Linked DNA regions of Homo sapiens: region 1 is linked to region 2. The links come from fine-mapping of genetic effects on gene expression. A gene starts in region 2. The other region holds a variant in brackets. All regions are shown on one strand. Distances are between the middles of the regions.

Evidence for each region. PIP is the estimated chance that this variant, and not a neighbour inherited with it, causes the effect.
Region 1: its variant is the best candidate, but not a certain one, in a credible set for the expression of PRR32 in liver (GTEx, PIP 0.88).

What each region holds. Positions count from the first base shown.
Region 1 is chrX:126,776,688-126,792,364 of GRCh38, forward strand. No RefSeq gene overlaps it. Among named protein-coding and RNA genes, the nearest start is that of PRR32, 35 kb to the right of the region's middle. The variant G/C (reference allele first, on the strand shown) is at 8,138.
Region 2 is chrX:126,810,833-126,826,509 of GRCh38, forward strand. It overlaps PRR32 (proline rich 32), which reads left to right and starts at 8,897. Exons shown (of 2, transcript NM_001122716.2): 1 at 8,897-9,031; 2 at 9,827-10,954. The coding sequence starts at 9,012. The coding sequence ends at 10,703.

The DNA.
Region 1 (15,677 bases), 34 kb before region 2:
AGAAATTGTGATATACATATTATATATCATATAAATAATAATTATGTTACTAATGATAATATTATACTAATAACAGTTGACATTTATGGAAAACCTATTACATGAAAGGTGTTGTTCAATGTGATTTTTTAATTTTCATATGTTTTTGGAGAACAGGTGGTGTTTCGTTACATGAGCAAGTTCTTTAGTGGTGATTTGTGAGATTTTGGTGCACCCATAACCCAAGCAGTATACACTGCACCAAATTTGTAGTCTTTAATCCCTCACACCTCTCCGATCCTGTTCCCCAAGTCCGCAAACTCCATTGTATCATTCTTATGCCTTTGCATCCTCATACCTTAGCTTCCACATTTGAGTAAGAATATACCATACTTGGTTTTCCATTCTTGAGTTACTTCACTTAGAATAATGGTATCCAATTCCATCTAGGTTGCTGCAAATGTCATTATTTTGTTCCTCATTGTGGCTGAATAGTATTTAATGGTATATATACACATACACCTATGTGTATATATATCAAATATATTATATATAATATAGAATACATATATTTTACATTATATATTATATTACAATATATAATATATGTATTCTATATTATATATTATATATTCTAATATATTATATATATTCTATATGTATATAGAATATATATTATGTATTATAATACATATTATATTATAATACATAATATATTATATAATTATATTTATATATATATAAATATATAATATATTATATATTATAATTATATATTATATATTATAATATAATTATGTAATATATATTACATATAATATATTATATATATTATATATTAAATTATGTTATATATAATATATATTATATAATATATATAATATATATAATATATTATATATATTATATAATATTATAGATATTATAAATATTATATATATTATATAATTATGTAATATATTATATATATTATATAATTATATAATATATTATATAATTAATTATAATTACATAATTATAATATATTATATAATATAATTATAATATATTATATATTAGAATTTTATATTATATATGTACATACAATATGTATTATATTATAATACATACTATATTACATATATATAATATAATATATATTGTATTACATATATTATATATGTAATATATTACTACATATTATATGTAATATAATATGTAGTAATATATTCCTATATATTATATATGTAATATAATATATAGTAATATATTACTACATATTATATGTGTCTATATAATATATAGTAATATATTACATATATTATATATGTCTATATAATATATTACATATATATGTCTATATAATATATTACATATATATGTCTATATATTACATATATATGTCTATATAATATATTACATATATATGTCTATATAATATATTACATATATATGTCTATATAATATATTACATATATTATATATGTCTATATAATATATTACATATATTAGATATGTCTATATAATATATTACATATATTATATATGTCTACAAATATATTACATATATTATATATGTCTACAAATATATTACATATATTATATATGTCTACACAATATATTACACATATTATATATGTCTACATAATATATTACACATATTATATATGTCTACATAATATATTACACATATTATATATGTCTACATAATATATTACATATATTATATATGTCTATATAATATATTACATATATTATATATGTCTATATAATATATTACATATATTATATATGTCTATATAATATTTGTAATATTATACTATATAATATGTTATATATTATATAGGTATATATTATATATTATATATATTATATATATTACATACATTATATGTAATACATGTATATATATTATATATATAACATATGTATATATTATATATATTATATATATTATATATCTTATATATGTATATATTATCTATATTATATATAATTATATAGAATATATTATATATGTATATATAATATATTTATATACTATATAGAATATGTTGTATATGTATATATATTATATATAATATATGAATATATTATATATGTATATATACTATATATAATATATGAATATATTATATATGTATATATACATATATAATATATGAATATATTATATATGTATATATACCATATATAATATATGAATATATTATATATTATATATACTATATATAATATATTCATATATTATATATGTATATATTATATATATATGATATATTATATATGTCTACAGAATATATGATATATTATATATGTCTACAGAATATATGATATATATGTTTACAGAATATATGATATATATGTCTACAGAATATATGATATATATTATATATGTATATAGAATACAGTAAATATTATATATGTATATAGAATATATTAAATATTATATATGTATATAGAATATATTAAATATTATATATGTATATAGAATATATTAAATATTATATATGTATATAGAATATATTAAATATTATATATGTATATAGAATATATTATATATTATATATGTATATAGAATATATTAAATATTATATATGTATATAGAATATATTATATATTATATATGTATATAGAATATATTATATATTATATATGTATATATACCATTAAAAACTATTCATATGTATGTATATATACCATTAAATACTATTATATATTATACATATAATATAAATACATATATACATATATGTATATATTATATTTTATAAATACCTGTATACATATATGTATAGATTATATGTATAGATTATATTTTATATACACTTATATTATATATCATATAATATATACTTATATATAATATATACTTATATTATATATAATATAATATATACATATATTATATATAATTAAATATATACATATATATTTAAATACTATTCAGCCACAATAAGGAACAAAATAATGACATTTGCAGCAACCTAGACGGAATTGGATACCATTATTCTAAGTGAAGTAACTCGAGAAAGGAAAACCAAGTATGGTATGTTCTTACTCAAATGTGGGAGCTAAGCTATGAGAATGCAAAGGCATAAGAATGATACCATGGAGTTTGCGGACTTGGGGAAAACTATCGGACGGGTGTGAGGGATTAAAGACTACAAATTAGGTGCAGCGTATACTGCTTGGGTTATGGGTGCACCAAAATCTCACAAATCACCACTAAAGAACTTGCTCTTGTAACCAAACACCACCTTTTCTCCAAAAACATATGGAAATTAAAAAAAATCACATTGAAGAACACCTTTCATGTAATAGGGTTTCCATAAATGTTAACTGTTATTAGTATAATATTGTTAGTAACATAATTATTATTTGCCATTAATCCCTAAATCAGCATGATATATAACAAAAAATCGAGATTTTTATTTTACCCATTACATCTAAGTGCAGATTTCTATTTTTTACTTTAGAACTCCATATGTTAAGTCCATAATATGTAGTTAAGAAAGTGAACACAACATTAAATTAATGAGTCCATGTAACGATTTGTTTTTCTCTTGCAATCAATAATCTTTAAAGGGAGAAATGGGGATAGAGAAAGTCTCTACTCCTGCTCAAGTTGGTAAGATAAACATTTTAGGAAGAAAAGGGAGAAAAGAAGAAGTGAAAGGAGGAGGAAGAAAACACTTTCACAACCTAGCAGCAAAGAGACATGACATTCAAAAAGTTTTATCTGTCTAGAGTTTGTGAGGGCAGAAACATTTTCTCCCATTTATTTATTTATTTATTCATTTGTTTATTTATTTTTACACAGAACCAATGTGCTGTAAGTGTTGGATTGGTGTCTTCTCTTTTGAATATCTCCAGCATCTAGATAATGCTATTCACTTAATAAACATATGTCGAGTGCCTATTCTCTGCCAGACACCGTATGAAATAGAATCTCAAAAAAGGTTATGCAATTAATAGGTGTTTGAATGCAGTCTTTTTTTCTTTTTTTTCTTTTTTATTTGACACAGAGTCTCACTCTGTCACACAGGCTGGAGTGGAGTGCAGTGGCATGATTTCAGCTCACTGCAACCTCCACCCCCCAGTTTCAAGCAATTCTCCTGCCTCATCCTCCCAAGTAGCTGGGGTTACAGGAGCCTGCCACCCCACCCAGCTAAACTTTTTTTTTGCATTTTTGTAGGGACGGGGTTTTGCCATGTTGGCCAGTCTTGTCTTGAACTCCTGATCGCAATTGATCCACCCACCTCGGCCTCCCATAGTGTTGGGATTACAGGTGTGAGCCACAGCACCGGGCCTGAATGGAGTCTTAATAAGAAGAAACTGATACTGAAGAACAAGAAAAATAAAAACTGTGTTTTCACATGCCCTAGTTTGCCTAAATTATATTCTTATTTATTGCATATTCTTATTTATGCCCTACTTTGCCTTAATTATATTCTTATTTATTGCCCTCCTTATGTGCGCTTATTATACAAATATATATTCTTTCCAGTTAGATTGCAAGGTGTTTGAGGGTAGAGATAATGCCTACCATAAATGTTATGGAACTGTTTAGTAACTGTTTTCTATTGATTTAAAAGGTCTAGGAATTTGCTGAAATTAAGAGGTTAGTATATGGTTGCACATTTACCCCAAAGCATAAAGGTCGAACAGAGTGCTCTTTTCTGAGATGTCTGTGTCTTATTTCCTCAAGTGACTATGATGCACCTTCTGGAAACTACTTTTCAACTAACTGGTATTATCAACAACTGCCTCTCAATCTACAGTGTCTAGCCATGAGTGAATCCATGTTTTCCGTCTGTCTCCTACTTGTTTCTTAAACCCTGGTAAGATGAAAAGCACTATAAACAGCTTACCCTCCCTTTTTTTCTCATTACATGTGTTGCATAGAGATCTGTTTTGTTCTGTGTTTAAGGAGAGTGTCTGCAAAATCATCAAGGTTTTATGTCCTCCATTATAGATTATAGACCTGTGATTAGAATATTTCAATTTCCTATGAAAGGAAATATCAAGATACCATGATTTTTGTTACACACCTTACTTAGCCGGCATTAACAACGTTAGTATTGAAACGTGGGCACAATGTTTTTCCTCCTATGAGCCATAAAATTTTAGAGCTGGAGAAAAACAGAACTCAGAAGGTCTGTGCAGGAAAGTCATTGTTAATAATTACAATGTTTCTTATTTAGAAAAAAGAATCTTCTCTTTGAGGGGAGAAAAGTGGTTTTCACCTACTTTTAATTTAACGACTTTCTGTCACAGCTATTAAATTTTAAATGAAAAATTTTGTCCTTCAGTTTTCGCACTGGATAAAGGGATTTGACACTCAGCATATCTGTAACTCAACCAAATTTTAGTGATAAATATTTGATACTTCACATAACATACTTGATGAGTTCATGAATGTTCAAACTGTGCCATTTTTTCATTTATGTCTATAGTTTATTACCCATTGAAAACTCTGAACACCTTTCCCCTTCTTTCTTTGCTGTCCTGTCCTTTCCCTCACTCTGGCAGCCTTTTAGTGAAGGTGCACATCTGCTGCCATAAACACACAAATTAGCACATCAATGTTTCCGATGAAAAAAAAATTCAGTGCAATAAGAGAATTTTTGAAAGCAAGCCAGTTTGTCAGTAAATTATAAGCTTCATTACCATAAAACTCTAACAAATAGAACCCATATCTCATTAACTGAAAGCACAATATGACTGCAGCAATATTCATCTCCCCAAAGAGTGCTTATTCATAGGAAAAAAAGATAAAAGTTTTGCTTAGAGCTGCCACTAATGATAGCATTAACTTTATTTATTAAAGAATGTCTAAGCATTTTGCAAAATATACATTTTACTCCTCCCTCATCTTTTTTATCTGATTAATTGCAGTGGCAGGTTATATACTATAAGTGTTATACAATGCTTAACGTCATTCCTCTTTACCATCAGTCTAATGATTCTCTAGTATCACTAAACTAACGGTGGAGACAATTTTTCCAGGCCACACTTCTACTTTCTGTTGCTGGTAAAATTCTCCCACATTATATTTAAGGCCAAAATTTTATATACCATTTATTTTTCTGATGAGTTTATTTCTGTAAAGAGAAAAGGTAAGGAATCCACTTCATCACTTTTTGAAAGGTGGAAACCTGTTTTCAAACTTAGATTGTTCAATAACTTTTGCAAGAACAGAGGTAGCCCAAAACCAACTTCTATATAAGTTGTCTTGTCATAATTTGGGAAAAACAATTATTCAGTAACTATGTTATAGTTTGTGCGTGATATGGTTTGGTTGTGTCCCCACACAAACCTCATCTTGAGTTGTAGTTCCCATAATCCCCACGTGTCGTGGGAGGGACCCAATGGGGAGGTAATTGAATCCTGCCCCCATGCTGTTGTTCTCATGATAGTGAGTGAGTTCTCATGAGATCCAATTGTTTTATAAGGGGCTTTTCTCCCTTTTTCTTGGCATTTCTCCTTCCTGCCATCATGTGAGAAAGGATGTGTTTACTTCCCCTTTTGCCATGATTGTAAGTTTCCTGAAGCCTCCCCAGACATGGCCAACAGTGAGTCAATTAGACCTCTTTCCTTTATAAATTACTCAATCTCAGGCAGTCCTTTATAGCAGCATGACAATGGACTAACACAGTAAATTGGTACCAGGTAGTGAGGCGCTGCAGTAAAGATTCCAAAAAATGCGAAAGTGACTTTGGAACTGGGTAACAGGCAGAGGTTGGAACAGTTTGGAGGACTCAGAAGAAGACAGGGAGATGTGGGAAAGTTTGGAACTTCCTAAAGACTTATTGAATAGTTTGACCAAAATGCTGACGGTGATATGGACAATTAAGTCCAGGCTGAGGTGGTCTCAGATGGAGATGAGGAACTTGTTGGGAACTGGAATAAAGATGACTCTTATAGGAAATACACTGGTGGCAATTTGCCACTGCCCTAGAGATTTGTGAAACTTTGAACTTAATAGGAATGATTTAGGGTATCTGGAGGAAGGAATTTCTAAGCAGCAAAGCATACAAAATGTGATTTGTGTGCTACTAAAAGCATTCAGTTTTATTTATTCACAAAGATATTGTCTGGAATTGGAACTCATGTTTAAAAGGCAGCCTGACAATGTGATAGAAAAGAAAAACCCATTTTCTGAGAAGAAACTCAAGCTGGCTGCAGAAATTTGCATAAGTAATGAGCAGCCAAATGTTGACCCCCAAGAAAATGAGAAAAATGTCTCTAGGGCATGTCAGAGGTCTTCATGGCAGCCCCTCCCATCACAGGGTCAGAGGCCTAGGAGGAAAAAAATGGTTTCATAAGCTGGGCCAGGGCCTTGCTGCTTTGTGCAGTCTTGGGACTTGGTGCCCTGCATTCCAGCTATGGCTAAAAGGGGCCAAGGTGCAGCTCAGGCCATGGCTTTAGAGGGTGCAAGACCCAAGTCTTGGCAGCATCCACATGGTGTTGGGCCTGTGGGTGCACAGAAGCCAAGAATTGAGGTTTGGGAACCTCTTCCTAGATTTCAGAGGATGTATGGAAATGCCTGGATATCCAGGCAAAAGTCTGCTTCAGGGTTGATGCCCTTGTGGAGAGCCTCTGCTATGGCAGTGCAGAAGGGAAATGTGGGTTCGATCCCCCACTCAGAGTCCCCACTGGGGCACTGCCTAGTGGAGCTGTGAGAAGAGAGCCACCATCCTCCAGACCCCAGAATGGTATATCCACCAACAGCTTGCACCGTGCACCCGGTGCACACACTCAATGCCAGCCCATGAAGGAAGCTGGCGGGTGAGGGGGGGGGGGCGTTGTACCCTGCAAAGCCACAGGGGCAGAGCTGCCCAAGGCCATGGGAGCCCACCTCTTGCATCAGCATGACTTGAATGTAAGACATGGAGTCAAAGGAGATCATTATGGAACTTTAAGGTTTAATGACGGCCCTATTGGATTTCGGACTTGCATGGGGCCTTTAACCTCTTTGTTTTAGCCAATTTCTCTCATTTGAAATAGGTGTATTTACTCTATGCCTGTACCCCCAACTGTATCTAGGAAATAATTAACTTGCTTTTGATTTTACAGGCTCACAGGTGGAAGGGATTTGCCCTGTCTCAGATGACACTTTGGACTAGGACTTTTGGGTTAATGCTGGAATGAGTGAAGACTTTGGGAGACTGTT[G/C]AAAAGGCATGGTTGTGTTTTGAAATGTGAGTACATGAGATTGGGGGAGGGGCAAGGTCTGAATGATATGGTTTGGCTATGTCCACACACAAATCTCATCTTGAATTGTAGTTCTCATAATCCCCACGTGTCATGGGAGGGTCCTGGTGGGGAGGTACTTGAATCATGGGGGTGGTTACCCTTATGCTGCTCTTCTCATGACAGTGAGTGAGCTCTCATGAGGTCTGATGGTTTTATAAGGGGCTTTTCCCCCTTTTTCTCGGCCAACATGTGAAGAAAGATGTGTTTGCTTCCCCTTTCACTATGATTGTAAATTTCCCAAGGCCTCATCAGCCCTGTGGAAATGTGAGTCAATTAAACCTCTTTCCTTTATACATTACCCAGTCTCAGGCAGTCCTTTATAATAATGAGACAACGAATTAGTACAGTGTGGTTTTATATGTTTAATTTTATTATAATTTTAAAAAGTAAAGCAACCTATAGTAAAGTCTTTGTAGTAGTTTAGATAGTTGAAACTGCTACGGTGTACTGGTTTCAGAAAACAACAAATTCCAAATTAATGAAGTCATTAGGCTGACAGAAGGGAAAATGACGTAACAGGGAGTAAAGAAGTTGTTAGTATAAGGTGAATATGGATGGTAGTTTAGTCAACTATTTCATTATGAACCAAGTTTGGGAAAATGATAGGGTAAGAGTTTAAATAACATGATGTATTGGACTTGCTTTAAAGTACTCTAGAAAAAAAAAATAGAAGGATGGTGGACACATAAAACAAAATTGACAAAACATGTTGATAATTGTTGAGACCAGGTGATGAATACATGGGAATGCTCTACACTATTCTCTTTACCTATGTGAATGTTACTGGTAAAGGGTCCCGATCCACATACCAAGAGAGAGTAATTGGATCTTGCGCAAGAAAGACTTTGAGGCAAGTCCATAGAGTAAAAGTGAAAGCAAGTTTATTATAGAAGTAAAGGAATAAAAAATGGCTATTTAATAGGCAGAGCAGCAGCATGGGCCACTCAGCTGCTTATACTTGTTACTTTTTGATTATATGCCAAACAAAGGGTGGACTATTCATGAGTTTTCTGGGATAGGGGTGGGCAATTCCTGGAAGTGAGGGTTCCACCCCTTTTTAGACCATATATGATAACTTCCTGATGTTGCCATGGAATTTCTTAACTGTCGTGGCACTGGTGGAAGTGTGTTTTAGGATGCTAATGCATTATAATTAGTGTATAATGAGCAGTGAGGATGACCAAAGGTCACTTTTGTCACCATCTTGGTATTCCTGGGTTTTGGATGACTTCTTTACCATGGTCTATTTAATCAGCAAGGTCTTTATGACCTATATCTTATGCCAACCTCTTATCTCATCCAGACTTAGAAAGCCTAACCTCCTGGGGATGAAGCCCAGTAGGTCTCAGCCTCATTTTACCCAGCCCCTATTCAAGATGAAGTTGCTCTTGTTCAAACACTTCTGTCATGAATGCTTGAAAATTTTCATAATTTAAAGTTTTAAGCAAAAAAAAAATACTTTAAAATACGTGGTATAAGCAGCTCTAACCTTTCTTCTCACCTGTTTTCTATTCTGCAATAAGAAACAGAAAAGGCTGAGAGACAGCATTGTGTAGGGAAAGATGGATTGTGTTTCATACCAGAGCAGAAGCTGGATTTTAAATGGGCCAGCCATTAGCTTTATGGCCTCTTAGGAATCTCTGAGATTATTTTTTCATTTGTTAAATGGGGATGGGTATTTGTACATCATAGGGCTGCTCTAAGGATTAAATAGAAGATTTGTGAAAGTGGGACTAGTATATAAGTGCTGCGTAAATGCTCCTTTACTTTACCTTGAAGTGAAGTTGTCTGATTTAGTCAAAAATTTAAAATAATTAAAAATCCATGGAAAAGCAAAACAAAATACTTGGTTTAATTTGAGTTTCAGGTAAATTATTTAATTTTTAGTACAAGTTTGTCCCCTATAATATTTGGGGCAGAAGGAGGGCAAATTTATCTGGAAATCAAATATAACTGGCTGTTCTGTATTTTATCTGGCAACCTTACTTCAAAGGGTTACTTTGGTAAGTAAAGTAGTCTAGCAAAGCCTTGCAATAAGAAGCATAATACAGTTCCAAATTAGGATTAATACTTAATTGAAAATTTGGCATTGAAAGAACAGGAAGATACTAATGAGGGAGATTTCAGCAGAGATAACAAACCCAGAAGTATGCTCAATTCCAAATCTCTAAAGAATAAATACTGCTTGCAGTTATCTATGAATAAAGGGCAGGATCAAAAGGAAGGAACATTTGGAAACCTGGGCCCCCAAAGAGGCGACAACACAAGAGGTTTCTGATGTGAATGGAAAGGAAACTTGTATTTAAATTAAATGCAGTCTCTGTCTCTGTCTGTCTCTCTGATTGTCATTCTCTCTCTTTCTGTCTTATCTCTCTCTCTCTCTCTCAATGTATATATATATATACACACACACACATATTTCTGTTCTTTCTAGTGTTTACTTGCACATTGTTTAATATTTTACTTGATTTTCTACAACCATTCTGCTGAAAATATGTCAATTAATGTTCTTAATATTCTGTTGGAATTTTAACAGTAATTTATTTTTTAAAAAATCACAGCCTAAGAACTGTAAAATGGTTGTAACTGAAATTCTTAGTAGGTGTATGCAATGTCCAAAAATGTCTTGTATTCAAGGTCCTGCATAGGAAATAAAGGAATATCAGTCTCAAGTGAAGCTAATAGACTATTTCTTCACTCTTTGTGTAGTATAGCAGTTTCTCATGGAATCATACTTAAACAATTCAACTCTACCTATAGCAAATCAAAGCTGTACATACATTAATTTTTAAAAAGCAAATGAACCTGAAGCTTTCCTAAAACAAGAAATTCACTTGAAGTTCCATACTCATTCATAAGCTGATTTATAAATAAAATACACACAATTATAAGCTGATAGACAAATTTCAAATCCCCATTTACTCACTGAGTCTCTGTTCTCAAGCTCTGTTGTTTGAAGTTTTAGTTTTCCTGTATACAGATGTAAATTTGCTATTGTTCTGCATGTTTTATACAATATTTAGATGTTTCTTCCTAGATGCTTTATGTTTCATATGTATGCTTTGTTCCTCTAAAAGTACACTCTGTGAAGGAACATATATTTTCTTCCTTTTATAGCACTTCAGAAGCATTTAGTAGAATATTGTACAAAACATTCACAAGAATGACCACAAACTGGCTTAGAAATATTGAACCATGTAATATTTTTTCTCTTAAGTTGTCAGATAATATCTAGCACAAAGAGGAAGACTCTTTAAATCCGACCAGGCATAGAGAGAGGAAAAGGAGGTGTGTAAGGTGCAAATTTAAGAAGACCCTGATTCTGAGAGCAAGCACTTTCTTCACTTTTGTATGCAAGTTGCCTCACTTGCCTCACCCTAGTCTAGGCTTTGTCTTTAAAAGTGGTGACATGTCTCCAACAGCACTTGTGTGTTTAAAATGACACTGTTTTGCAGGAAGGAAATAGACGTCCTTTTAACACTTTAAGCAGAATGCATCAAATAACTATTCTTGAATAAGCTATAGTATTCTCCAGCAGGTGTAACAGTCATTGCTTAATAACTGCTCACCTTTGCCATCTGCTTTTAGCTTCTTGATGTATGACATTTTCCTGATTACCACTTGGTTGTGCGACTCGTGCTTTAAGCCATGTTATCCTTTATGTATTCTTGCTGCTCTTCTGGGACCAAGAGTAAGCTGGAAGAGAGTCTTTGCATTCTTCAGACATTGTATTTGGATATATTTTGAGCATTTTATCTTTTCTCAGATTTTCTCTTCATAGTCATTATCTTTCCCTCCCTCCCTCCCGCCCTCCCTCTCTCTCTCTCTCTTTCTCTTTCTTTCTTCCTTTCTTCCTTTCTTTCTTTCCTTCCTTCCTTCCTTCCTTCCTTCCTTCCTTCCTTCCTTCCTTCCTTTCTTTCTTCCTTTCTTTCTTTCTTTTTTGACGAAGTCTTGCCCTGTCACCAGGGCTGTAGTGCAGTGGTGCAATCTCAGCTCATTGCAACTTCTTCTTCCCGGGTTCAAGCAATTCTCCTGCCTCAGCCTCCTGAGTAGCTGGGATTGTAGGTGTGCACCACTACACTCGACTAATTTTTTTTTTTTTTGGTATTTTTACTAGAGACGGGGTCTCACCATGTTGGCCAGGCTGGTCTCAAACTCCTGGCATCAAGTGATCCCCCCGCCTTGGACTCCCAAATTGCTGGGATTACAGGCTTGAGCCACTGCTCCCAGCCACTCATTATGTTACATATCCAAAACTAAAACATTTAATAATATTTATTCACAAATGCTAAAGTGAAGATAATAATGCAATAATAATTAGCATGTTATTAAACCCTCAATATTAATTCACAAAATATTAATGCACAAAATTCATTTTTCTAAGCACAGATGGAAAGAAGGTTATAACATGCTTCTTTCTTAATGCTCTCTTTATGCAATAGAGAATTGCTCAGGAAAATAATAAAACTAATTGTTGCAAAGTGTGACTGAAACTGTGATCTTACTATTATCACGATAAAAAATGCAAGCTGTCATGATGGCATTATGTCATATTTTTATATAACAAAATAATATTGGAGTTATATTATTTATATGTGATGATTTTAAAAATAGTGCAAGGCAGCCAAAGAAGAGTGTACACTTCTTTTGTAGGAATAGTGTAGAGGTAAAGCAACATATTCATCATATTATATCATATGTGAGGGCATATACTATCAATATGACTGTTTCCTATTGATTTTTACCTTGATCTCTGGGCTGAAGTGAAGATTTCTCCACTGTAAAGTACACTTTCCCCTCCTTTCTACACTTTAGTCTTCAGAAGGAAGTTACTATGCTCAACTCACACACAAAAAATGAGAAGTTTTGCTACCCACCTCAGGGTAGAATAGCTGTGTAAATTATGTGGAATTTGTGTGCAAGGAAGATTTGTCTTTAGTCCTATCTTATTTGTTTATATAACCTTTTATTTATATCATTATAAACTCATTGATATTTAATTTACACTTTGGATTATAATTCAATACTATTTTTATTAATTTGTACAAATTGTTCCAACTTTGGCATTGGCAACTGTTTTTCTTGAGTATTGTGTCCCTTTGGCATGACTATATTATAATGTGCTTTCCTTTTTTTGTTTTTTTCTTCTTTCTGGCACTTTTTTTTTTCTGGCAGGTGCTACAGTCTCATCTTGTGTTTTCCTGTCTGTCTTGACTCAGCAAGAGAATAACTCCAAGGAACCCTGGTTGCTTCACTGGAGAATGATACTAGAAAGCAAGAGCTGGACACTACGTTTGCTCATTGCTGTGGGGTGTTGTTTCTTCTTCCCCAGCTTGGCTGACAAAGGAAGGATAGATGTGTGCATAATAACCCTTGCAGATATCTAAATATTTCTATATGTAACAATCAGTATTTCTATTAAGCTAAAAATAAGTTCATAGTGTTGCCCATCTAACTCATTATTCTAGTCTCCTCCCCTTGCTTAACTGTAAACTCCCCCTCCAACAGTGACAAACCTGACTCTCATCATATGTCATCTATTTACTGAATTGTCCAATTCTGATATACATGTGTGAAAATATTACAATTGTTAACCCATATGACCATGGTAAAGAACTTTATCAACTAAAGCATAATGCTTCTGTGCAGTTCCTTTTGTCTTTAGTCTTACAAACTCCATTCACTGCCAAAGTTACTTAGGTCTGCTACTTATTCCCCCACCTTCTTCAGTGAGATTGTTTCATACATTTTTTAATATAGTTAGATGGTCTTGTTACATTCTGCAGTCCATCCTGTGATTCCCCTGACCTCATAAATGATGTCTTCAAATTTGCATTATTTGAGACGAATTTCTTGTGCTATAACATTCACTGGATTTTGAAAAAAAAGAATAGTGTCATGTATCCACAATTACAGTATCATGTCTATTAGATTTTGGGTGCTAAACAATTCCCTGTGCTTTATTCCACTCTCTTCATCGCCTTGCAATCCTCTGGTAACTACTTATTTGTTTACTGTCTCTATAGTTTTGCCTTTTATACAATATCATATATTTATAGCCTTCTCAGACTAGTTTCTTTAATTTACAAATATGCATTTAGGGTTCATCCATGTCTTTTTATGGCATAATAGCTAATTTCTCTTTTTTTGCTGTATAATATTTCAATGTATGTATATACCATAGTTTGTCCATTCACCTATTGCATGACATTTTGGCTGCTTCTAGTTTGGATGGTTATGAATAAAGCTGCTATAAACATGCACTTGCAAATTTTTATGTGGACATCAATTTTCAAGTCATTTGTGTAAATAACTAGGAACGTAATTGCTGGATCATATGCTAGGACTATGTTCAGCTTTATAAGAAACTTCAAACTGTCTTCCAGAGTGACTATACCATTTTGTATTCCCACCAGTCATGAATGAAAATTTCTGTTGTTTCACATCCTTGCCAGCTTTTGGAGTTTTTGTTGTTGTTTAGGTGTTTAGCCATTTTAATAGAAGTGTAGTGGTATTATATTGTTGTTAGATTTTGAAGTTATCTAATGAGAAGTTATACTCAGCATCTTCTATATTTATTTGCCATCTGTATATCTTCTCTGGTGAGGGGTCTGTTGAGATCTCGTGTCTATTTACTAACTGGACTGTTTATTTTCTTATGTTTGAGTTGTAAGGATTTTTGTGTGGAGTTAAAAATATGCCATTCTGGAACATTGACTATTATTTAAGTTAAAGGCACTTGAAAAACAGCAGGTGTAAAAAAGATTACTTTCTCCTTTGTGTTGTTTCCTAAAAACAGAAGATGAAATTCTTATGTGAAAGACATCCCCTCCATACCAAAAGTAATAATATCATTATCTTTGAGGACAAGGAATTTAGACCAAAATAATTTTACGCAGGCCTCTTTAAAATAACTCTTATCTTTTAACCATACTTACATAATTTAGTTTCTTCTTCACAACTTTCTATTCTTTTTCCAAATCAGGATATAAGTAACTAACTCTAACTGCTTCTTTAGGTCAATTTGGAAGATCTACAGATGTCCTTATGAGGGCTCCTCTGCCACCTACAGTTTGTGTTAAATAAACTTGTATGTTTTTTCTTCTGTTACTCTATGTTACGTCAACTTAATTCTCAGACTCAACCTGGAACCTAAGAGGATGGCAGTGGAGTTTTACTGCCCCTACAGTTTCTGCCAATGAAGATGGGATTCTTAAAGGCTGTGATGCCCTACTCCCTCTGAACCCTGCAAATGGGATCCTACAAGACCCGACGAAAGCCAGCAGAAAGTAGAAATTCTTGTGGAAGTCCACTCTCCTGCAGGTCTGTATGCAGTGTCTCATTGAGAAAAGAAGGTAAATAATTTTTCTTGACATTTGCTTCCAAATTTAGATTGGCAGGAGTAAAACATTTATCAGATTTAGTTATTTGAATTATGACTCTTATGAATTTGGTTACT
Region 2 (15,677 bases):
TTTTTTTTCTGAAATACTTTTTATTATGGCTTTGATCTCATTACTTGTTATTTATGTTTATGTTTTCAATTTATTCATGGTTCAATCTTGGTAAGCTATATGTCCCTAGGAATGTATTCATTTATTCTATATTTTCCAATTCATTGGCATATAGTTGCTCATAGCAGGTACTAATGATCCTTTGGATTTCTGCAGTACTGGTTGTAATGTCTCCCTTTTCATCTCTATTTTAGTTATTTGGGCATTTTGTCTTCTTAGTCTGGCTAAAGTTTTGTATATTTTGTTTACCTTTTCAAAATACCAGCTTTTTGTTTTATTGGTCTTTTGTATTATTTTCTTCATTTCAATTTTATTTATTTTCACACTTACTTTAGTATTTATTGTCTTCTACTAATTTTGGGTTCAATTTGTTCTTCTTTTCCTACTTATTTAAGATGCATGATTAGGTTATGTATTTCAGCTTTTCTTCTTTTTTGATGTAGACACTTTTGGCTATAAACTACCATATTAGTACTGCCTTCACTGTATCTCATAGCTTTCAGAATGTTGTGTTTGTATCATAATTTGTTTCAAGAAATTTTTAAATTTACCTCTTAATCTTTTCATTGACCACTGATCATTCAAGAGCATATTTTTTAATTTCCATGTGTTACTATAGTTTCCAAAATTCCTGTTGCTATGGATTTCTGATTTTAGTTAATGTTGTTAAGAGAAGATGCTTCGTATTATTTTATTTCTTAAAATGTATTGTGGCCTAACATATGGTCTACTTTTGAGAATCATCCATGTGCTTAGGAGAATGTATATTCCACACTCGTTGAAGGAAATGTTCTGTCAAATATCTATTAGGTCCATTTGGTCCTATATATTCACTTTACATACCAGGGTACTCCAGTGATGGGTGCATTATATTTACAGGTGTTACATTCTCTTGCAGAATTGACCCTATATCACTATATAATGACCTTCTTTGTCTCTATAGTTTTTCAGACAAAATATATTTTGCCTAATTTAAGTATAGCTCCTCCTGCTCTTTCTTATTTTTCATTTTCATAGAATATCTTTTTTAATTCCTTAAATATGTCATGCCACTTTCTCCTGACTTGTAAGGTTTCTACTGCAATGTCTGCTGCCAAATATATTGCAGCCCCATCATATGATATTTGTTCTTTTCTCTTGCTGCTTTTAGAATCCTTTCTTTATCTTTAACCTTTTGGCATTTGATTTTTAAATTCCTTCAGGTAGTCTTCTTTGGGCTAAATCTGCTTGGTGTTCTATATCCTTTTTGTATTTGATTATTTATCTCTTTCTCTAGGTTTGCAAAGTTCTGTTATTATTCCTTTGAATAAACTTTCCATCCCTCTCTCTCTCTAACTCTTTATGGCCAGTAACTTAAATATGCGGTTTTAAGTTACTAGGTTTTAAATTTACTAGATCTTGCAGTCATGATTCTTTTTCTTTTTCTCTTCTAACTTTGTATTTTCAAATAGCCTGTCTTGAATCTCACTAATTCTTCTTCCTGCTTTGAAGAGGGACCCTAGTTTGTATGGCTAGCCTTGGAGAAGACTAGGACTGAGAGACAGGAGAACAGGGGAAGATCAGAGAAAATCTTTTTCTTCTGAAGCTACTTCTGAGGACTTAATTTGGGGTTATTGTTTTCTGAGCCCAACACCATATTAGAAATTAAATCTGGGAAAATTTTAAAACACAGGAATATATAAGCACGTATTCCATTAATCATTAGAGCAATGACACCACATATCATGTAGCCTGAGAAAAACTCCCACTGCACCCTCAGGAGAGAATTAGACTGAATAAGTGAAATAATATAATCATATAATAATGAAAATATTTTGACTCTGTGGGCCCTTTGAAAGGGTATGGGGAGGGTGGCATTTTTCCCTAAACCAAATTTTAGAACTACTACTCTTAATGAACTAAATGTTACCTATCTTTTAAAAAACTAAACATGATGTTTGGAGGTCTGTGGAACAAAATGGAACTGGAGTGTGGCATGCAGTCAAAAAGATTTTATGTTCTATTGTCCCTCTATCTAGTCAGTGGTTTAGAGCTAATGAAAAAATAGTGCCCACTAGAATTCCGGGCCTAACCCCTCAAGCCTAGACTACAAGGCTACATCACCTTGTCAGTATTTCTCTAATGTGGTCAGAAGATCACCTCATTAGAATCAGTAAATAAACTAAAGATAACTGGGCCCCAGTACAGATCAATTGAATCAGAATCTAAGGGATGGAGCCAAGGAATCTGCTATTTTAATAAGATACCCAGGTCAGTCTGTTGCTCAATAATACCTAGAAACCACAGAAATAACCAAGTGTTCAGTTCACCCTGAAGTGGTGCAATGCTCCATACCTTTATTTGCTCTCATTTGACCATGTGCCAAAAGACCCAGTACCTCTATAAAGGTTCATCAGTTTGGCTCAGATCTTATTATAGGGCTGTTGAAACTTCACTACCTGAATGATATTCCTTTAGAAATTTCCTGTAGAAATTTTCTAAGAGTCCCTCTCTTATTGCCTTGCCCTCATCAATCTGATCTTTTATTCTGTTGAACTCCCACACTAAGTAAACACACATATCAATTCATCACTCTAAGAACTAGAGATAGAAGATCTTAAATAGTTCAAAAATAAAGGCAAACTATCCAGGACCTTTAAACAAACACTTATGTCAGCAGCATGGGCATACGGCATAATTCAGGCAAGAATTAAGAATGGTCTCTCTGGATAGGCTTTATTATTATTTTAATTTTGAGTTTCATCAGCAAATTTTCCTGCACATTGAATTATAGTCAGTCTATAAAAGTGTTACACTTCCTCCAACAAGCTATTTATTTGACCACTTGAGAGGGATGTAGGGAAGGCTTCTGGGTGGGAAAATTTTTTTTCCCTCTAAAGTAACAAATCATTTGGAGAATCAATCAATCAAATCTTCACTATCAGGAAACCATGCAACATTCTTTTTTCCCCAGGCCTTCCTCTTTAATCATCACACGCTTTCAGTGATTCCTGTTGTGAAACACAAGTTTCTAAAGCCCAATTAAATATGTGGTCAAATACAAAAATGCCCTCTTTATTCGAACACAGCTACTACATTAAATATAACAATGGGTGATTTTATGTAGTGCCAATTGAAAAGTTTAAAGCATTATACACCATGGGGTTTTTTTAATAGTGTGGTTAATCCTCACCACCTTAATGATTTAGGAAAAGAAAAAAGGCCTTATATGTAAGAGGGATAGGTGGCCACCTACACAATGCTAATTAAATTGTGCCAAGAAGTCTTCTTGCTCTAGAAATATCACCTATGGTTATATGAACCTAACGTGTGAAGTGACTTACAGTTTGCAGAACAATTTCAAATAACTATATTTAATTTTCTCAACAGTTCTGAAATAGGAAAGGCATTATCATCTCTATTTTACATAAAAACACTGAGTCTAATATGTACAAGGAAATTATTATATTTAAGCCACCTAGTATGTGACAGTCATTATTCATACACTACTTAACATAACTCTCTCTCTAACCCCATTTTACAGGTAAGGAGAATGAGGTTTAGAGAAGTTAAGAAACCTATCCAAGATAACACAGTTGATAAGTGGTAAAGCTGAGATTAAACCCAGATTTGTGCCCTTATGATTCCAGAGTCAAAGCTCATAACAATTTTGAAAAACAGATTCATTTTTAATAAACTGATAAAAGGTTTCCAACATGAATTTCCAGTGTCTTGTTTATAAGCAAGATGAAATTAATCTAAAATATATTTTGTTTTTCAAACCAAGTACTCAAGAAATTAAGCATGCCCTCAACTCCTGGGCCCAGCAATTAAATCTGACATGGCAAATACATGTATTACACCATTATAAACTTATGGCCTGATGCTTTCTGTAAACTTTAACCTGTTTTCATTAACTGTTCTAATTTTATTAGTCCATGTTTGCATCTTAATTTATATTATATGCCCTATATGAACATAAACATATTGCTTTTATGTTTTAATTTATATATTTATCTAATTCAGAAGGGTATTCTCTAGGGTTATCATTAATACCTCACTTGGATGACTCAAGCTCGGCCCCCATTTCACCACACACACACACACACACACACACACACACACACACACACACTACCATGGAAATAATATGAGGAACCCTATATCTTCTATATGTGCAGCTCAAGAGCTCAACATTAATTAAATCTTAATATTGATAATGCTGGGCTCATATTGCCATTAGCTCCTCAGTAATGGTCACTTGATGCTGTCCTATAACCAATTCCTATTATCTGTCACCCACCCCAATTGCTCCAAGACAGTGTTTTCAGTCATCACCACCTTGCTACATTATTAACTAACACTTCAATCACTTGCTGCATCCCTGCAGAGGCAGACTTTCTGGGATGTGAGCATTATAGCCTGGATGATTTCTTCATTGCAGAACTACCTCTGGATGAGGGTCAATGGGTCCATGCATTACAAAAAACCTAAACTCAGATTTGGTACACACGTTTTTATCTGATCCACTTTTGTGATTGACCTAGAACTATAATTTAGAGGCCACGTGATTAAATGAATGAAATATTGGCTTTGGTGTCAAATTGGCTGTATCTGAATATTGTTTGCCATTTACTAGCTTTGGGACCATGGGAAACTTCTACTTATTTTCTCTGACTCTCTTTTTCCTCATTTATAAAATGAGTATAATAATAATAGCTGCCTTAAAAGTTTGCTGTGACCATTAAATGAGACAATGTATATCAAATGTCTGGTGTACAGTAAGTGGTAAAAAAAAATAGATTTTCTTTTACTTCTTCCTTTTTTTATTCTCATCTCACTTGCCCTGGTGCTACTTAATTTCTGGTTCCGACCCCCATGAGAGCAAGAAAAATGAGTGATATATGTTGAGGAAACTTCTGATAGCTTCTGATTTGTACAAAGAGATAACCTGTTTGGAAGTAATTGCCATGTTACCCATCTTAAAACAAATATGTAAATATTTAAATCTGAAACAAAAAACTCTATAAAAGCAATAATAGTCTATTGAATTTCATACAGCTAGATCCAGCAGTGAGGCACATGTTGTTAGTTGCTTTTGCCAATACTGGTGGTGATATAGCCACACTCTCACCTGTTTGTTCTCATCAATTACCACACAGAGTTTGCAGGACAGCTGGTGGCAGAGAAGACAGGACTACTGCCTATAGCTGTGTAATAGAATAATGCTGCCTGGCCCATTTTGGGAAAGTATCATGCTTTCACGATTCTCATGCTTTAATACATGGAATAAATGACTACAGACTCCTCAAAAACCTGGTATATCTTCCAGAAGCACTTTTTGGACATCATAAACTTAGAGAGTTTTTCACATGCATAGCCAAATTACATTTGGAAAGTGAGCAAATGGGTAGGATTTTCTGATGACTGTCTCCCCAGAGGTCAACATGACAATTTCCTTATAAGCTAGATGGAAACAGAGAAAAATCATCTTTATGTCTTTATATCCTGAATTCTTATTTGAAGCAAAAGAGAAAGGGTGTATTTTAAATGATACTTTGCCTTCATTTACACATCTGCAAAATTTCTTTAAAAAAAACCCCACAGCAACACAATTTTGGTAGATCAACCACACTTTTTTAAAAGTTTCAGATGGGGTTTCATTATATTTCCCAGGCTGGTCTCCAACCACTGGGCTCAATCCATCCTCCTGCCTCAGCCTCCTGAGTAGCTGGGATTACATGTGCATGCCACCATTCCCAGAAATCATATTTATATTAAAGTCATAATTGCTGTGCAAAAGTAAATATATCTTTCTACAGACCTTACTTAGCATTTCAATACTGTCATCAAAATTTTTTGAGAGGTAAATAAATGATATCTGGAACTGTGTCATGAATAAAGAGGCTATGGGTAATGAAAGGCATTTATACCTTAGCTACTTCTTAGGCCCCCTTCAAAACTCATGTTGAAATTTAATTGCCATTGTGACAGATTAAGAGGTGAGACCATTAAGATTAATTAGACCATGAGGTCTCCACTCTCATGAATAGACTAATGTTGATAAGGCAGTAGTGAGTTTGGTATTGCTAGAGTGGGTTGGTATGAAAGTGAGTTTGGCCCTCTCTTCCTTGCTGTCTCTCACTCCCTTGTGCTTCCACCTTTTGTCATGGGATGCCACAGCAAGAAGGCTCTTGCCAGAAGTCAGTTCCTTGATATTGGACTTTCCATCCTCCAAAACTGTGATAAATACATTTCTTTTGTTTATAGATTACCCAGTCTCAAGTATTATGTTATAGCAGCAGAAAATGGACTCAAACAGCTGCCTTGCTAACTAGGCTACTTTTTGGTGAAACTTCAACCTTCATTACCCATGTTTCTCTCCCCAAAACTGTTATTTAAGTGAAGTAAAGAAAAAGGCATATACTTTATTACTGAATTTTCAATGCTCAGTGGATGATTGAGTTACCCTGATAGCTTTTTGCGAAAAGGTAGGTTTTGAGATAGCTGTATTTAACTTTGAAATTTGAATGTATTCAAATATTTATTTATGGGTAAAATTTATGGGTAAAACTTCATGAATTATCTGGTTGATCGCTATCTCTAAGGGGTCTAATTGGTACTTTATATTTCTATTTCTGCCAAATATGAGCCCTAGTTTTGATTTAAAATATGAACTACAAAATGCCATTTTTTTCTTTATTTCTACTTCTATAACTGTTCTTCCCATAGCATGACATCTCCTTTTCTGCCCATGTATATCAATTTTTCAAAACACAGCAGAAGTTTTAATCCCACATAAACTGTGTCACAACTACTTTAACCCACAATTATAGTTCCTTCTTCTGAATTTCCATTGCAGTCTTAGCTTATACCATGCAGCTAATGGTCTGTGGCTATTTTTTATGCCATTCTTCAATAATTTTATAGATGTTATTTTGCCTCCCAAGAAAATTAGAACATTCCCTGAAGTCAATATGGATTGCATATTTAACTTTTTTGGTAAAATCAACACTTAACACAATAGTGAATGCACGCAGTAGACATTCAATAAATATGGACTATTTGCACAAAGGAAAACAAGTTACAAACAAAATATGAGGTAATATCCATAAATTATACACTTCATGGCTTTGGAAAATTCTTGGTGCCATGGTCATTGTCATTGTTCCCAGCAATTTGGTTCCTATATTACACCATACTGTTATGTAATCCAACTAAGATGATATCTTACCAAACAGGTATTTCTAGGTAAAATTGTTTATTATTATAGTAATTTGATAAGAACAAAAGGCATTCCTCAGGCTTTGTTGCTATTATCAGGAAAAAAATATGCAACCTATTATACTGAAACTATTTATCTAAATGTGATTCACCAACTATTAGCAGGCATTAACCCAAGTTGCAATTTCCTCTCTGATACGACAAGAAGTAAAAGAGCTTTAACACCCCACAACAATAATACTGCTAATAATACTATTATTTTTACATAAGGACAAGGTGCGTAATAAACTGAAGCAAGAATAGAAACAGAATCTGGGGAATCAAGAGATTACTTAATAGTGAACCATGCTAGGCAAGTGAACAGATTCTTCTGGAAAATATGTTGGAAACATGCCACTTTCTTGTATAGATGGAGACAACACACTCTGGCAGGAAGATGTGGACTTGCAGACCCCAAAGGTTACTTCTATATGAGTTGTGTTGATTTGCAGTAGTGACCATTCCTTTACATTAGTACTTTGTACTTATGCATTATTCTGTCTCTCTCACACACACACAGATACACAGACACCATATATCTAAAAATTGAAGCACATGGTATTTGAGTCTGTTATCTTTCCTTAAGAGAAAAGAAATATACATTACTGTTGAACTGTAGCAACATATACTAATATTGAAAATAAGGAAGACACAATCTCCCAGGTCTAGCCTGCACAGCACAAATTTTATGTAAATTTAGGCAGGTTTGCCAAGTTTATGGCTTTGTCCTAGAGCAACAGTAATTGTCTTGGATGATGGAATGGTTGTTGTAATTTCGGAGCAATTAATCTGTAGATCAATGGCAGAAAAGAAAGCTGGGAAAGTAAACTTGCTTAAAATGAAATTTAGGCTGGACAAACAGAAAGTTCCCTATGCAAAAATGTTGCATGGCCAAACCTAAGCTAATATTTATAAATTTATGATACCTGTTATGCCATTTATTCTGACCCTCCCAACTTGAGAGAAACTTCCAGAGCTCTATTACAGGAAATACACACACGTACACACACACACACACACACGCGCGTGCACACAGACATAGACAGAGACAGAGAGAGAGAGAGAGAGCTTATAAACTAACAGACAAGATGAAGGATATAACTGCAACGTGAGGGGCTAAAAAATAATGTCACAATGATTCTTAGAGGAGTTCTTGTTTCATCTTCACAGATAGAAAAGCAATTTAGCCCCCAAACCTCTGTTCTCCACCAAGTTAATAATATGCATCCCCAAACTGGAAGTTTAAGTTACAATATTAGGCACAATACTCTGCTCAATGTGTTTCCAAATTTGAGGAGACTTGACAACTACCTTGTAGAAACTAAAACTTCATAAATAACTCTTTAAAAAATATCATGCTTCCATGATTCTTCTAAATCCTTCTTGAAATGATTTGTCTTTCCAACTGCCCTGCATCAGAATTAATGTAGTGAATGCCTTTACCATCCATCTACTACTGTGCAAACACCAGTCCCACATTTAAGTTCAAAGGAGTGTCACAGATTCATCCCCACCCACCCCCCTCCCCACTCCTTTTCTCCCTCCCTTCCTTAGCAACTGGTAACCCCAGAAAGAGAACTCCAAATCTAGAAAGAAGCAGTTGGTCCCTGGCTTCATTCTAGTTGCCAAGCCTCTAAAGCAGAAGCAGGAGTCATTTCTCCAGACCTAGCTGGCCTGTTCAGTGGGTTATCTCCACCACCTCAGGAAAGCTATTCTGATCAAATTTCTTCATGGCTTGTATTGAAAACGTGTAAGTACAAAACCGAGTACAACTGTTTAATTTTGAAGGCAAAGTCAGTTTGAATTGCTTTATTGTGTAACTGGGACAGGGATGAATGGGTTGGAGGAGATGTGGGAGGAAATTACAGACAAAAACTTGAAGGACATAAATTTAGTTACTAAGAATACCGGATTTAAGAGTGGCAACTTTGAAGTGTAATTTTGAAAGAAAATTTACAAATCCCTAGTCTAAACAGTGGGGTTTAAACATGAGGAAATTCTTACTCTAGGGTGTGGTGGTGGTTGAATGAAAGAATTTTTAACAAAATTTGGTGTGAGTGTTGAATGATACCTCAAGAAGAGAAACTTGTGTGTTTGTTAACATAACTAACTTTTCTTTGACTTCTGTGAAGAAAAAGATATTTTACTTCGGAAGACATACCAGAACAATCTTGCCAGAATCTGAATGCCAGGATTAGTGAATCATAGATCCTAGAGAGAATTGAAAAAGCTGGTATTTTCTATTATATGCTTACTATTAAGTTATGTGCATCTTCTAAGCTTCCTTGCTGCCTTGTGGAGGTGGGGAAATGAGGAATGAAATAGGCCACTGAGTAGTCATGAAGGGTAATCATGTAGCCTAGTACTAAAGAAGCCACCTGGGAAGGGGCCAGAGCGCTGAGCAAGTATTTGGCTACATATAGGGGAGAGGGCACTCCTTTTTTCCCTGGTATATTTCAGTGAGCTCAGTCAATTACATATTGTAGCTATTTTCTGGTCAGTGCATTTCCATTTTTATTAGCTGTTTGATTTCTGTTTTTGCAAGCCTTGGAGGGCACGCCCCTTCACCCTTGGTAGTATCTGTGGACAAAAATGGGAACCAGGAGCTGCACCACGACATGCCCCTGCAATGTCTGAGTTCCAAGCCAGAGGATGACGCAGAGCCCTGGGGTCAACCTCAAGTACCGCTGAGACCTTCCGTCAATGTGCTGACTGATCTGGATAGCAAGCAACTGGAGTGGCCCTCTGAAAGAACAGGATCCTGCATTCCTCTTCATAGCTTGAGAGCTCATAGACACCCCTACGGGCCACCACCTGCTGTTGCAGAAGAGTCCCTAGCAACAGCAGAAGTAAACAGCTCTGATGCACTGGCAGGCTGGAGGCAGGAGGGACAGGATGCTATTAATGTGTCCTGGGAAGTCTCTGGCGGCCCTCCTGCACTGATAGTAGGGGGCACAAAGGTCAACAATGGGGGCACTGAGAGAGGCAGTAATAACGCAAGGTTGCATGTAGCTTTGCCACAAGGTAAAGGGTTCTTTCCACCCAGGGGCCCACAAGTGAGAGGCCCTTCACATATTCCCACCCTTAGATCAGGGATAGTAATGGAGGTGCCGCCCGGAAATACACGAATAGCCTGCAGAGGAAAGCTGGCTCATGTTTCTTTCCCACTCAGGGGCCCATGCCACCCCATGCATAATTGGCCAAGGCCTATCCCGTTGTCTTCCAGTACTCCAGGTTTACCTTCTTGCTCTACTGTTCATTGTTTCATCCCTCCTCGACCTCCGATTTTCAATCCCTTTCTCACTATGCCTCTTCCTTTTGCTCCTCCTCCGATATTTGGTCCTCCACTGCCTTCTTATTTTGCCCATTTCCATTCTGGGGGAATGCCAGCTCCTGCATCACCCAACAGAGAGCACAGCTGATGGCAAAAAGGAAGGATGAAAAAAGGGTTGTGGAAAGAGGTGAAAGTTATTCATTTATGCTTTTATATTTGAAACCTTGTACCCTCCCACACTCTGTTTAGCACTAATGTGCCCTACTTGAAACCACGTACCCTCCCACACTCTGTTTAGCACTAATGTGCCCTATTTGAAACCTTGTACCCTACCACACTCTGTTTAGCACAAATGTGCCCTACATACTGGAGATTAAATAAAGATTGTGAAGTCTGAAATGCTGTAAATTATTTTTCAAAATGACACCCCAGGAACCAAAGCCTTGGATTTTGTGTTCTATCTTTAAGGTAATTAAAGCAGAAACAAACCTGTCAGTGTTTTCTAAATGGCTTAGTTAAATGACTGTTACTATTTTCTATTGAGTTGTCTTGCAGTGTGACTGGGGAAGGGTGGTTAGGTTCTTCCTAGGCCAAGGCTAGATTGGGGAATCTCTATCTACCCAAGGCTATAAGGGGTGCTTAGAGCTGGATGGCTGAATTAAGAAAAGTTCCATAAAGGCAGCCTAAAGTTCAGATAATAGAGAAAAATGAACAAACAGTAAAAGAAGCCAGATGAGATTGAGGTGAGAGTAATAGAGCTAACATTTAGCAGTCATAGGCAGAACCAAGTTGAAAAGTCAGGAAAGAAGGAGGAGGGAAGATGGAAGAGTATTCTTAGACCACTGCTTCAACACGAACTGGTGTTTGTGTTTCAACTTTTCCTTGTTGCTAATTACATAGTATATATAGCTCTGGCTCAATAAGAGTCCAAAATCAAGGTGGAACAGGACTGATCCTTTCACCCTTTGTCTCAACAAAGAGCTTACTATATGTATTAGATCCATTCCCACACTGCTAATAAAGACATACTCAAGACTGGGCAATTTATAAAGGAAAGAGGTCTAATTGACTTACAATTCCACATGGCTGGGGAGGCCTCAGGAAAATTACAATTAGGGCAGAAAGGGAAGCAAACACGTACTTCTTTACATGGCAACCAGAGAGAAAAGTGCAGAGTGAAGGTCGGGGAGGCACTTATAAAACTGACAGATCCTGTGAGAACTCACTCATTATCACGAGAACAGCATAAAGATAACTGCCCCCATGATTCAATTACCTCCCCGTGGATCTCTCCCAAGACAGACACAGGGGGATTATGGGAACTGCTGTTCAAGATGAGATTTGGGTGAGAACACAGCCAAACCATATCACTATATGCTCAGAACATTGAAGTGCAAATGAAAATACTTTACTCACATGGAAATGTTTTTCTCAGATACTGCTGTGTTTGTATTCCTCATAATTTGCTACAGCACCCCATTATAATGATGGTTCTGAGAGATTATCAAAATGTTCAGATGGGAGCTTTTAAAATTTCAAGTAACAAAAATAAGGATGCAGCATGCAGTGTGAAAGGATGTACATTTTGACAGCTGTATAACAATTCACTATATAGTAAAATGACCTAAAATATAGTGCCATTGTACATGAACAACCAATCAACTAGAAACGTCTAAAGAGGATGTTTCTTCAAATAAGAATTTTTAATATTCAGTGCTGATAGTGTAGGTGATATAACCAGTTAGACAGAGGCTGAAAAAGCCTGCCAGAGACAAAAAACAATAAAGAATTTTTAGCACCAAGAAAGAGTCATTTGCTACTCTGGTGAGGACACATAGATTGATTAAGTTTCTTTTATTTGTTTCATAACAAGTCATTCTAAATGTACAGGTGGTATTCTAAGGTTTAGCAGGAATATCTGGATAGTGACTGATAGAATTCCTCTCACCCCATGTATGTCCTGAAACTGGCATGATTCCATCAATTCACTCTGGTGGATTGAACACAAGTATTCAGCACATCTTTGTACAGCTGCTCGTGATAAGGTAGCTTAGTCCTAGTGTACTAAATATCTGTTGAATTTTAATCCTTATGAACAGAGAAATTGGGCATGCTTATAGTCATCAAAAATATCTTTTGAGCCAGATGTTGAAAGATATTTTGAGAAGAAATCAAGCCATCATGTCAATGGTAGTGCTACGTCTCTAGAGAGTTGCCAAAAGGTGTGGTAAGTGACGGCAGGACAGGATTCGTTTTCCTTCTCACAGGAAGTAAGTAGGTCAGATCTATGCTCAGAAAAACTTAACTTACAATTAATTAAAGAAATCCATGACAAATTGACTAGAACAAGCAAGTGACATCAATACAATTGGCTCCTTTTCAGCTCTCTTTTCTCTTTCCTCACCCTGTGTGTGTGTTTTTTTTCTATGTCATGTCTAGACACTGAACACCAATAGTAAGCAATAATGAATACCTATTAGCAAATTGAGACACTAAAGTTGTATTTATACCTCTGAGGTGCAGGGTAAATATGTTTTCTTTAGTTTATGAAGAGTTCTGGGCCTATATAACCAATTTCAATGAATGCAAGTATCAAATAAGCCTGGAATCCTGCTGTTAAATGCAAATATTTTTGTTTATACATGGCTTCTGCATGGAAATACGGTATTACTTTGTTATCACACATGACAGTGTCCTGAATGACAGCAAAACATCTGTTTTTAAACAAACAAGTCACATTAAAGTTGTTATTTTAAAATTATTATGGTAGAATGTGATCCATATTAATCCTAAACCATAACATGATATTCATTTTGGAAAGCGCTCATAAAGCAATGTATTCAACACTCTTGAATATATATTATTTATTTTTATTCTCTGTGGCTTAAATAGATTCTAGCCACAAAAGGGAAAGATGAACATCAGCATAGCAGTCCTTTCTTCTGGTAATAATGACAATGGGTTAAGTATTTCCTATTTGAAGCTATAATCATTGTCACAAGAAGATTCATTTTATACTGTTTATTATTTATAGTTCTCATTATATTCCTTGTCACAAGACTGTAGCATCAGAATTTTAATGTCCTATATATTCTCTAGAAGATAATAATAAACTCTGTAACACTGACCTTTTACATGTCTACAGTATGATTCATTAGCCATTTCTATTTTTTACTGTTTACAACTTCTGTAGCATGAGTGCAAAAGGTACACATACAGCCAATGAAAGTGCAGAATACTGAAAAGGTTGAAGTTCAAAGTTATGAAATATTTAAAGTTTATAGTCTTTCATAAACTAGAATGCCATTAACATTATGCCTCATTCTTCTGAGAATTATTACAACAAAAACACTAAACAGGAACAAATGATTTATTTTCACTGGAGTCTTAAGGTTGAAATCACAGTGCTATCTTTCTCCACCATGAAACAAGAGGCTCATTGTGAGGTCGTCACTAAATAACTGGGTAGCACATATATAACGGGAGAGAAGAAAATCATTCCATAACTATTACATAGTACTATAACAATGGCTTTGCATTATTCATTGTTACTGAGAGATAATTTTTAAAGTCCCTAAATAAAGGGCTATGTAAAATGACCCTATTTCAAGACAAATGGGCCAAAGCCAGAGCCAAAATACATTTTATAGAGGTAAAAAACATAATGGCAGGTCATAGGCTAATTTCATAGCTACCACAAAACCTTGAATGTCTTCTTTATAATGAGGTGGATTGAGTGATATTCCCATAGAAAGATAAAGTGATAAGACTGAATTAAGTAAAATAACTCATCTATTTCTCTTTGGTGATATTACTTGTTTTTTATAATAATAATGTATAGCATTTATCAAATCAAGTCACGATTTGAGAAGTTAGAGAAATTGTGCTTCATCATGCAATCTTTTTCTTAAGTGCTTGAGAAGGTGCTACTCTTGCTAAACAATGATTAAATAAATGCACTTTCTCACCCACCTTTGAGGACTTTACTGTCATTCTGAAAAACTTTCCAGTGTTTGCATTTCTCAAAAAATAAAAAAACTCTCAGTTAAGCTTATTTTTATGAAAGTGACTTGCCTATTTCTTTTTGGGAATGAAAGGGTATGCTGTATTATTTTATATAGGTAAGCTATATTTTTCCTCAATTCTGAAAGTTCCTCATGTAAAATAAAACAATATAAATAAAGCCCATAAATTCATCAATCCTGCAACAAAGGACTTTATCCATCTAATCATGTTTGATCATAAAATTTGCTGGGAAGATTATAACTGATTTATCAAACATCACGATTATAAAAGCTGTGACTCAGAGGCAAAGCAACACAGGGAGTATGGGGGAATTGATGGATGGTGTTTGCACATGTGACAAAGAGAAGAACAGATGGAGAAAGACTGAGGATTAAAAATAGAGAGGGGTAGGGACACAGTCAGTTGAGAAGAGATGAAATTCTTTAGAACAGGAAGCAGCTGCAAATTGGAAATACTATGGGAATAATAATAAATTTGGATGTGGGAGGACATAATCCAGAGAAAACAGGGTGAGGTGGTCTGAAAAAAATAGTGTTATGAATTAAGGGTTTCATGACAGAAAAATCTATGTGCAGAAGCCACACATTTGAGGGGGTGGGGATGAGGTGATTAGAGAAATACTATCTAGTCTGCCTAAAAGTGAATCCATCTCCACTGCTCCATTCCTTCCTATAAATATCTCTCCTTAGACAGCAGCCAATCTCACATTCCCTATGCCAAACTGGAAACACTTTCTGGTTTAGGTTTCATTAATCCACCAAACTGGCCTAGACAAACAAACACATCATCATCAAGGTGAACTTCATTAGTGATGTGGGTATGCAATGAATTGGATTCAAACAAGAACATTTTTTCCTTAAAGTTCTCAAATATACCAGATCTTCATTTTTTAAATTTAAACTTTAATAATTTTTCCCTAGTGAGGTACACTGATGATTTTCTAATTTTGTCTTTTATTCCTCCCCGCAAAATTATAATTTCTTAGGTGGAATTACTGACATTATTTAAGCACACTACATCCAGAAACCAAGTAGTCTATTATGTTCACCAGGGGAATATTTATACCTACTTTAGGTAAAAAAATTGTGTGCATTGT